Linked DNA regions of Homo sapiens: region 2 is reported to be linked to region 1. Evidence: microRNA targets listed by miRTarBase, many of them from high-throughput screens and not tested one by one. Region 1 holds a microRNA gene; the other region holds the end of a gene's coding sequence.

Evidence for each region. Region 1 holds the annotated microRNA hsa-miR-5582-3p (UAAAACUUUAAGUGUGCCUAGG, at 1,833-1,854, shown strand). A microRNA usually pairs through its seed, bases 2 to 8, with sites in the 3' UTR of a target mRNA and lowers its output. Matches are read on the target gene's strand: a 7mer-m8 pairs with bases 2 to 8, a 7mer-A1 pairs with bases 2 to 7 and ends in A, and an 8mer does both.
Region 2: miRTarBase lists DIRAS2 as a target of hsa-miR-5582-3p. Seed matches in the 3' UTR shown: 8mer at 2,433-2,440.

The regions. Positions count from the first base shown.
Region 1 is chr11:46,749,904-46,754,978 of GRCh38, reverse strand. It overlaps MIR5582 (microRNA 5582), which reads left to right and starts at 1,787; the gene lies at 1,787-1,854. CKAP5 (cytoskeleton associated protein 5) reads left to right here. Exons shown (of 44, transcript NM_001008938.4): 36 at 1-91; 37 at 1,482-1,669; 38 at 2,269-2,344; 39 at 3,445-3,633; 40 at 3,724-3,861; 41 at 4,368-4,451; 42 at 4,546-4,705.
Region 2 is chr9:90,608,679-90,613,753 of GRCh38, forward strand. It overlaps DIRAS2 (DIRAS family GTPase 2), which reads right to left. Exons shown (of 2, transcript NM_017594.5): 2 at 1,154-5,075. The coding sequence ends at 4,550. Among named protein-coding and RNA genes, the nearest start is that of LINC01501, 28 kb to the left of the region's middle. RefSeq lists enhancers at 4,298-4,798, 4,799-5,075.

The DNA.
Region 1 (5,075 bases):
ACTCATCTACAACACACACATGGCAGATGAGAAATTGGAGAAGGACGAGATCATCAAGTTGTATAGCTGTATCATTGGCAACATGATTTCGGTAAGGGCACCTCTGCAGAATTTCAGCTTCCCATCAATCTCTCAGCCTACAGAGGTTCAAAAGCCAGAGTCCATGCAGATGTTGCAGTGAGTCCTGTGTCACTTGGTAGAATTTTACATGCATTGTATATAGCAAGCTACTGATGGCTTCCATTGGATGTTTGGCTACACTCCATCCCACCTTACTGTTAGGATATAAAGTAACATGCTTACAGACTACCTAGCTTCTTCCGGCCAGTTTCTTCATCAGGCATGGTAGGCCATAGCTGCCTTTCCACAGATAAGTATGGTTCTATTAAAAATGCTAATTAGCCTGGTTTGATCAGTATACATTGTATACATGTGTTGAAATACCACTCTGTATTCCATAAATTTGTACAATTATTACATGTCAACTAAAAATAAAAGGGAAAAAATTTGTTAATGTTTTACCTGTAGAGCAGATTATAAGGATAATAAAGACATTCTCACTCAGATTTCAATATTCTTTCTTAAACTGGGGCTAAAAGGGTGGACTTAATGACACCAACTAGCCAGAAATTACAAATTTGGCATAACAGTAAATAATTTCACATGTAAAAACAAATACTTTGGCCAGGCACAGTGGCTCACACCTATAATCTCAGCACGTTGGGAGGCCAAGGCGGGTGGATCACAATGTCAGGAGTTCAAGATCAGCCTGGCCAAGATGGTGAAACCCCATCTCTACTAAAAATACAAAAAATTAGCCAGGCCTGGTGGCGGGCGCCTGTAATCCCAGCTACTCGGGAGGCTGAGGCAGAGAATTGCTTGAACCCAGGAGGCGGAGCTTTCAGTGAGCCGAGATCGTGCCACTGCACTCCAGTCTGGGCAACAGAGCAAGACTCTGTCTCAAAAAAAAAACAAAAAATTTCACAATTAGAAGCACACCGATTAATTTTGCCTATTACTAGAGGCTTGGGGGAGTGTGGTGATTTTGTTTTTTCTTTAATACTCTGAATTTTTACAAATATAACATAGCCGGGCGCGGTGGCTCACGCCTGTAATCCCAGCACTTCAGGAGGCCAAGGCAGGTGGATCACGAAGTCAGGAGATCGAGACCATCCTGGCTAACACGGTGAAACCCCATCTCTACTAAAAAAAAAAAATACAAAAATTAGCCCAGCGTGGTGGTGGGTGCCTGTAGTCCCAGCTACTCGGGAGACTGAGGCAGGAGAATGGCATGAACCGGGGAGGCAGAGCTTGCAGTAAGCCAAGATCACGCCACTGGCACTCCAGCCTGGGCGACAGAGGAGACTCCGTCTCAAAAAAAAAATACAACATAATTGAATATTTATCAGAATATGCCACCCACATTTCTTTACTCTCTATATTGAGTTTTACACCTCCCTGACACAAGTATGTCTGGATAGCTGTTTCAGATAGAGAGCCTTGCCCGGGAGGCCTCCACTGGAGTACTAAAAGACCTAATGCATGGCCTCATCACCTTAATGCTGGATTCTCGGATTGAAGATCTTGAGGAAGGACAACAGGTCATCCGCTCTGTGAACCTCTTGGTGGTGAAGGTTCTGGAGAAGTCAGACCAGACCAACATCCTGAGGTATATCTGTACTCTCAGCCAATAGAGCCTGGGGCATCCTCGCTTTTGTTTACACTTAGAAACCATAATGTCCGTAAGTCAACTTCCTAGGCAACCTAACAATCATAATCAACTTCCTAGGCACACTTAAAGTTATAGCTACATCAGTTATAACTATATCAGTTAAAACTTTAAGTGTGCCTAGGAAGTTGATTTATTACTCTTCTTCATCATGGACCAAAGGTATTTTAGCCTGAGACCATAGCTAAAACTAGTAAATACTTAGTTAGCCAGCCAATATCATGCATTTTCTATAATAGGACTGTAAAGTTTGTCAGTTACATTTTTCTTGTACATTTCAGGTACATTTTATTCTTTCTCAGCTACCAATGACAATGAAAAATAGAGTCACAAACCTTACACTTACCAAGTGGTGACTTAAAAGGCTTAAACAATGTTTATTTTCTTAACTGAATGTCAGGTAGTCCAGGACAATTCCTGATCCATGACCTCTCAGTTTATTAGATGAATAGAGTAATCTCACTTGCCCTTTCAACTGCTGATTCTAATTGGAATGCAGGTTTGAAACTTAATGCTGTTGTGTTGGGTTTTTCTTCCAGTGCCCTACTTGTTTTGCTCCAAGACAGCCTGCTAGCAACAGCCAGTTCTCCCAAATTCTCAGAGCTTGTTATGAAGGTGAAGTTGAAATGATTTGATCTCTTTTCTTTCAAAGATGCAATCACTTTGTTAAAAGTATGGGGAAAGAGGAATTGGAGCTAAGAAAGACATAGGCTCAAATCAACCAAGTCACACCTGAAAATATATTTTTCGTAATAAAAATATTAATAAATTTTTAAAAATTTAGCCAGGTGCAGTGGCATGCACCTATAGTAGCAGCTACTCAGGAGGCTGAGTTGAGGAGATTACTTGAACCCAGAAGTGAGCTTGATCATACCACTACACTCCAGCCTTGGCAACAGTGAGACCCCATCTCTTAAAAAATATATATATGGTTTTTTATATATATGTGTATTATATATATGTATATATGTATTATATATGTATATCTTAATATGTTATATATGTATATAATACACGTGTGTGTGTGTGTGTGTGTGTGTGTGTGTGTGTGTGTGTATATATATATATATATATATATATATATATATGAATTGGTCTTCAGTTTTTCCCTTCCTACAATTTATATTCTAAGTTCAGGCCTAAACAGTTCGTGGCCTCAAACAGTGAAAGGGAGGAAATATTTTGTAAATATTTTACTAATTCTCTGAGGATCAAAAGGAAAGAAGTTTGAAACAGATTTCATTTATTTTGGGGAAAAAGATATCTACAGCCCTATGATATTTGGTCTCTTTTGTGAAAGAGACCAAATGAACATATTTATAACATTGTAATACTGTTATTACACTGAATTAGTATCAGATATTTTGTCCCCTTGCATTAGATTTGGTTAAGCAACATGAACTACTTTACTCTCAGGAACGAAGGAAACCCAAGAGAGAATTTCTACCAGGTTAAATGATGGCCCCTAGCTCTGGGGAGTGGGAAGGAGTAGAGATGGATGATTAGATGAATGACTGGACACACTTCAGCTGGTGTCATGGTAGAAGTGATTAAAAATTTTCATGTTTTAGCAGCTGAACTTGAAAGATATGATGTGCCACATTTATAGCCCTGGCCATCTTTTAGAAGTGAGCTCAAAGCTTAGGGAAGATGAATGGTGACAAATTATCCTCATTCTTCAGTCACTCCTAACTCTTTTATTCTTTTTTCAATAGTGTCTCTGGAGAATGGTTCGACTGTTGCCTGATACCATCAATAGCATTAACCTAGACAGAATTCTTCTGGATATCCACATTTTCATGAAGGTCTTCCCCAAAGAGAAACTGAAGCAATGCAAAAGTGAATTTCCCATAAGGACCCTAAAGACCCTGCTACACACCTTATGCAAATTAAAAGGGCCCAAGGTGAGTAAGAATCGCAACTGGTCTCTGAGGGAGCTTGAGAGAAAATCATGGAAATGGCAGTGCTATCAGTCATGCATGTGTCTCCCTCAGATCCTGGACCACCTAACGATGATCGACAACAAAAACGAGTCTGAGCTGGAGGCCCATCTCTGCCGGATGATGAAGCACAGTATGGACCAGACTGGGAGCAAGTCTGATAAGGAAACAGAAAAGGGAGCATCTCGAATAGTGAGTGGCCTGACTTGAAAGATTGAGGGACATGAGGCTACACCGGAAGTGATCTTATCTAAGGTGTAGGTCACCAGGATATGCTTTCCGAAGGTCCAAGGTGAAGGCTCATGGACTGGTTGAATCAGTCTCCTGCTGTGGTGCAGTAACCATTTCCACCTTGAAATTTTAAAATCTAAACTAAGTATAACCATGTGTTTTTTGGTCCCCAAGAAAGATGCCTAAGGCATTGGTCACCAGATAAATAGCTAGTTCTGCTTAACATGGAAAGAATATGTCAGTTCCTTCTCCATCAAGTTGAGGTGGAAATCTGAGACTGGAGGCATTCAGTAACACAGAATGTTAGTGCTTCTGCTGCAAGACCTGCATCATCGGTGCATCTGTTATCTGTAGGAACATACCAATAAGGCCCAGATTTTGAGATATTTTCTGTTCATATCCAACCATCAGTTCCTAATTAATAACTCAAGTCTAACCAATTCTTCCTATGTCTTTCAACTTTTCAGGATGAAAAATCATCAAAGGCCAAAGTGAATGATTTCTTAGCTGAGATTTTTAAGAAGATTGGCTCTAAAGAAAACACTAAAGAGGTGAGAGTGAAAGGGTTAAGCAGAATAGGGGTCTGCTTTATGGTAAAGGGACACTAACATTCATCCCCACCTCTTCCCTTTTCCTGTTCACCAGGGACTAGCAGAGTTATATGAATATAAGAAGAAATACTCAGATGCTGACATTGAACCATTTCTGAAAAATTCCTCACAGTTCTTCCAGAGCTATGTCGAAAGAGGCCTTCGGGTGATTGAGATGGAGAGGGAGGGCAAAGGTCGTATTTCCACTTCAACAGGTATGGTTTCCTGTTATAGCTCCAGGAATAAGCTCAAAATAGCTCCTAGCACAGGAACCTGAAGTTTTGGTTAGTTTAAATTCATATCCATGAACCTCAATACTTAATGGTCACCAAATGGCCTTCCCATTGCTATATCCAGTGGTCAATTCTTAGCCACCTGAATTGACCCATCATCAGTATTTGACAATGGTAAATAAATTGTTCCCTGCCCTTGAGACAGCTTCTTCACTTCGCTTCCAGTTCTCCATGCTGTCTTGTTTTCCTCCAGTCTCACTGGCTATTCCTTCTTGGCCTTTGACTGATTCTTGCTCACTTGCTCTGACCTCTTTTTTTTTTTTTTTTTGAGATGGAGTTTCACTCTTGTTGC
Region 2 (5,075 bases), not on the chromosome of region 1:
GATTTCCACACTTCATGCTGTGGCCCACTCCAAAACCCTTAAAATCACTAGCCCCACAGCCCTCTGGGAGATGGATTTGAGGTTTCCTCCTATCTATCTCCTCACTGGGTGACCCTACAATTAAACCTCTTGCTCTGCTGCAACTCCATGTCTCAGGCATTGGCTTGTCCCAGACTTAAAACACCATCATTTTGTCAATGAAAAGAATCACTCTATAAAATTTTTGAAGACATTTATTCTGAGCCTAATATGAGTGACTGATGATCCTAGACACAACCCCAGGAGATCCTGAGAACATGTGCCCAAGGTGATCTGGCTACAGCTTCATTTTATACATTTTAGCAAGACATAAGACATCAATCAATACATGTAAGATGTACACTGGTTTGGTCCAGAAAGGTGGGATAACTCAAAGTGGGGGCTTCCAGGTCATAGGTAGATTCAAGAATTTTCTAATTGGCAATTGGTTGAAAGAGTTAGATTATTATCTAAAGACTGGAATCAGTAGAAGGGAATGTCTGGATTAAGATAAGGGCTTATGGAAACCAAGGTTCCTATTATGCAGAAAGAATCAATAGAAGGAAATTCCTCCTACCAGACCCAAACAGTCTATCATTCTTCAGATGTTTTAATGTTAATGCTGGTCAGTTGTGCCTGAATTCCAAGAGGAGTAGGATATAATGAGGCATGTCTGATCCCCACTTCCCATCATGGCCTGAACTAGTTTTTGAGTTAACTTTGGAATGCCCTTGGCCAAGGGAAGCATCCATCAGTCAGTTGGGGGGCTTAGAATTTTATATTTGGTTTACAATTTAATAGCCTGGGGTTGTGGAGGAAAGCAGGATTAAAAAAAAAGAGAAGGGAGTTTGTCTTCACTTCTTCTATTTTGACACAAGTAAGGCCCTGCCCTACTCCTTCCCTCTCTCACCTTAACCTGTCTGGATCTTCTGCTTCATTTCCACCCAAAGACAGGGAGCAATGGGAAAGTTTCACGGGACACCCCAGGGTGAGTTATTGTTGCCTATTGCTAGTTCTGCACAGAGCCTGATATCCTCCTATTGTGGTCATAAGCACATAACAGCCGCTGAGGGGTCACCAAGTCAAGGTCATCCTAGACCAGCTAACCCCTTAAGAAATAGCACCACCTTCCAGCCAGGGTGTCATAACTGTAGCTTTATTGTAATATCTCCCATTATTTCCAGAACATCACTGGCAACTAGAAACTTGTATGCAAGGGTGATTTTTATAACCGCAGAGTAAATAAAATATAATAGAGAATAGACTTGTAACAATAAATACACTTTAAATATAAATATACACATTGATATCCCACACATATAAAAGTCATGCTCTGCAAATACTTTGTATACACACTGTCCTTGTGGGGTATGAATTCCAGGATGTGTCTTCAAGGATTTACATGTGTCCTATTAGTTGTAGATATTTCCAGAGAACTTATGTAGAAGCAACACATTACAAATTTTGGGGAAAAAAATTAAGTATCACAGAGCAATTTTTAAAATATTTAATACATTTTTGTTCTACAAAGAATGAGCATTTCTTAAATATTACAAACAGTGAAACAAATATACTAGCTTACAGATATGTACAATTTATGACTTTATACTTCAAAAATGCAGGAAGATAAATTATATATTTTATATACATGTAATTTTAGATAGAATGAACAATTCAATATTGCTCTTGTGTTGGTCTTGCTGCATTGTATGCATGCCCATGGCTTGTCGCTGGATGGAGGAGGGGCTCATGGGGATAGAAGGGAAGTCATGGAGCCCCATGCTCATGCCCAGAGCGCCATCTTCAAAGCAATATTTAATTAAATATTAACTTATTCTGCCTGGGTCAAAAACTGCTATGCCCATATGCAATGTAGGATGTGTTTTCAAGAACCACAGCTACATATTTGGGAATGGAAACGTACAAATGCTTTAAAAAAATCTAATTCTGTGATACTAACTCCTCAAACTCTGAGTCAATTGGGGATCTCCTAAAAGACGATTTTGAGATAACCATTGATATCCTCAGTTCAGCTCATAGAAAACGATCTCAAAATGAAGACCCATAATTGAGGCTTCAATAGCCTTCCTAGCCTATAAATTCACAGAAAAAATATGAAGGAAAAAATGTGTCCTGAATGAAATCAGACTTTCAGTAATTACAAACTTCTCATGCTGATGAAGCCCTGAACACTTAAACATGTAGAAACTGATTTGAAAGGGATAAAAGAAATTCTGACTTACAATCAGTAGAAATGGGATGGTTTGCAGGAATATCTCACATTAAAACCTTATTAATACTACAGTCAGTGGCAAAGATCGCATTCTACTGTTAACAAAGAACCCAATCAAAATCTATAGGTCTACTTTGGCCATGAAGTTCTGTTTCTTCTTCCATTTAACCTATACCCAAATTAAAACTTGATCATCTCTCTCTCAGAATAGAAACAGAAAAAAAATGTCGGGACAAGTTGAAAAACAAATGTTCCAGAAAATCCGCCAACTAAAGATCTCATTGCGAATGCTGTGCAACAGCTTTTTAGAACAGAACAATCCTGCTTGAGGAATCTGAAGGGGGCCACGGGACTGGCCCAAATGCTCTTCACCCCCAGCTGGCTCCCACGCCACTTCTCTGCTTTCTCAGCTCAGCATGAGTGTTCCCCCTGTAAAGTCAGGGCGGTTTTGTTCTAGGAGATCATGGAGTCAAGCAGTTCTCAAAGGCACCTCCCACGCTCTAAACACATCCCAAGGGTGAGTTATTGGGAGACCAGAGAGGATGAGATCAGGACAAGGGAACTGAACCAGAAAAGGCTGAAGAAAACTAGGACATATTGAGAGAGCAAGTGTGCTTTGGGGGATGGAGATGGCCACACTGCTGCTGCTGCAAGCCCTGCATAGGAGGGACAGGAGAAACAGCAGTTGCAGGAGGTGGCCTGGTCAAACATCCCCAACTTAAGCCCTCCCTGTGCTGACACTGCCACCCAACAGCCATGCAGCCCCCACCCCCCCAGGCAGGCCCACGTGGGACTGCAGCTCCTTCTGCCTGCCAGGCGGGTGACAGGAAGACTGCTGAGAGGATGATGCCACAGTTGGGGCCAGTAAATGTTCTGCCAACTGAAACAAACAGGAGATCTAACAGGCACTATCAGTGGGAGTTTTCAGGAAGCCAAGTCCAACCAGGCTCTACGATGGCAGAGCAATTAAGCTGAGTGGGCTCTTCCCAGGGCAGAGAAGCCTGCCTGTCTCCAGCCACCATCCTATCCCCAAGCTAACACAGGAAACCTGAAATAGCTGTAATTTGGCTTGAAAGATTAAAGATGCACACAAAATCATTAAGAGAAAAAGATAATTGTTTCTAGAGTGAATACTGTATTGAACAGCTCTTAGAAGACACGTATAATGGAACATGCAAGAGAATTTACTATTATTTAAATGCATTTTCCAGGAACATATTTCCAATACAGATAGATCATCAAAAACACAGTGAATAACTTCTGTTTCAAAGTATTTCATTAAGGTGCAAAGTGTGGCATATACATGTTTGTGACACTACAAAAATGGATGTGCTTCTGGTTGTCTGATGGCCTTTGCTGGCTGCTACCCAGCTGGGTACAGATCGAGTTATTTAAGAGAAGAAAACCACCTTGGAGGAAAAAAACGTCTAAAAATAGTGAGTTTATTTGCTTGTATTTAAAATCTGAGGGCTGAAAGAAGTTATACTCCTCACAGGTCAAAAGAAGAAAATCACATTTCTAAAACCCTCGATGTATAACACACAGGAACATTATTGCGATGTTTTAATACTGTCACGATATCCTCACTTAAAAACTGAAGAACTTCCGACAGAGCAGCACACTGTTAGTGCACTTATCCCTGCACATGAAGATAAATACTCTAATAGCTTAAAATGATACTTCCTAACTAGGTCTAGGTAAGGTGAACACATCCCCTCAGGGTAGCAAGGCTCCTAACAGGCCAGGTGGGAATTAAGAACGGACACCCTTTGGGGGAGAGGCTGTGTTTTTTAATCCCCTTTAAAAAAGTGTAAAATGGACCAAGTGTGGTCCACTTTGGACCATCTGATCTTCTCACCTCTTCCTGCCCCTCCCCTCCCCCAAAGATGTGATTGGCTTCTGTCTGGGGTTGGTGCAGGTAACTCTAGGTTAACACGCTCTCACATGCACGTAGATGACATTTAGTCCTCTCGGTACATGTTGCTTTGTGGGTACCAGTCCTCCCTCCCACCTTCGGGTGTTCATCGCCACCTTCAGCAATTGCTGGCACCTCTCAGTTCCCAGGGATGCTGAGTGTGTTGGTTTTCACTTGAACCGCCTGGCAGATTCTGTGACTCCAGAGTGGGTGGCTTACTGTTGGTGGTGTGAAACGCCCTCTTAAGGACAATAGGACGCATCTCGATTAAATGCAATGTTTAACACGTGGGCATTATACATGCTACCCTGACGACGGTGGGTGTCATTTTGGGGGAGTGAGGTGCCGGGGACACACAGCTGCTCCTCCCGCAGGAAGGGCCTTCACATGATCACGCACTTGCCTTTGAGCTTCTCTTTCCTTTTCTGCTGCTTGCTCTTTTTCCCGTCGATCTGGAGACTCACGGTCCTGCGCTTCTCCAGGTTGAGCAGCTCCTGGAAAAGCTCCTTCACGTTATGGTTGAGCTTGGCTGAGGTCTCCATGAAGGCACACTTCCATGTGCGGGCCAAGGCCTCCGCCTCGCTGCTCTGCACCTCGCGGCTGGGGCTCTCATCACACTTGTTCCCCACCAGCATGATGGGGATGCTCTCCACGTCCCCTTTGATCTCGCAGATTTGTTCGTAGATGGGCTTGAGCTCCTCCAAGGACTGTCGGCTGGTAATGGAGTACACCAGGATGAAGGCGTGCCCTTTGGAGATGGACAGCCGCTGCATGGCCGGGAACTGGTGGCTCCCCGTCGTGTCGGTGATCTGCAATGTGCATATGCTCTTGTCACAGCTGATCACTTGCCGGTAGGTGTCTTCCACCGTCGGGATGTAGCTCTCCCGGAATGTGCCTTTCACAAACCTC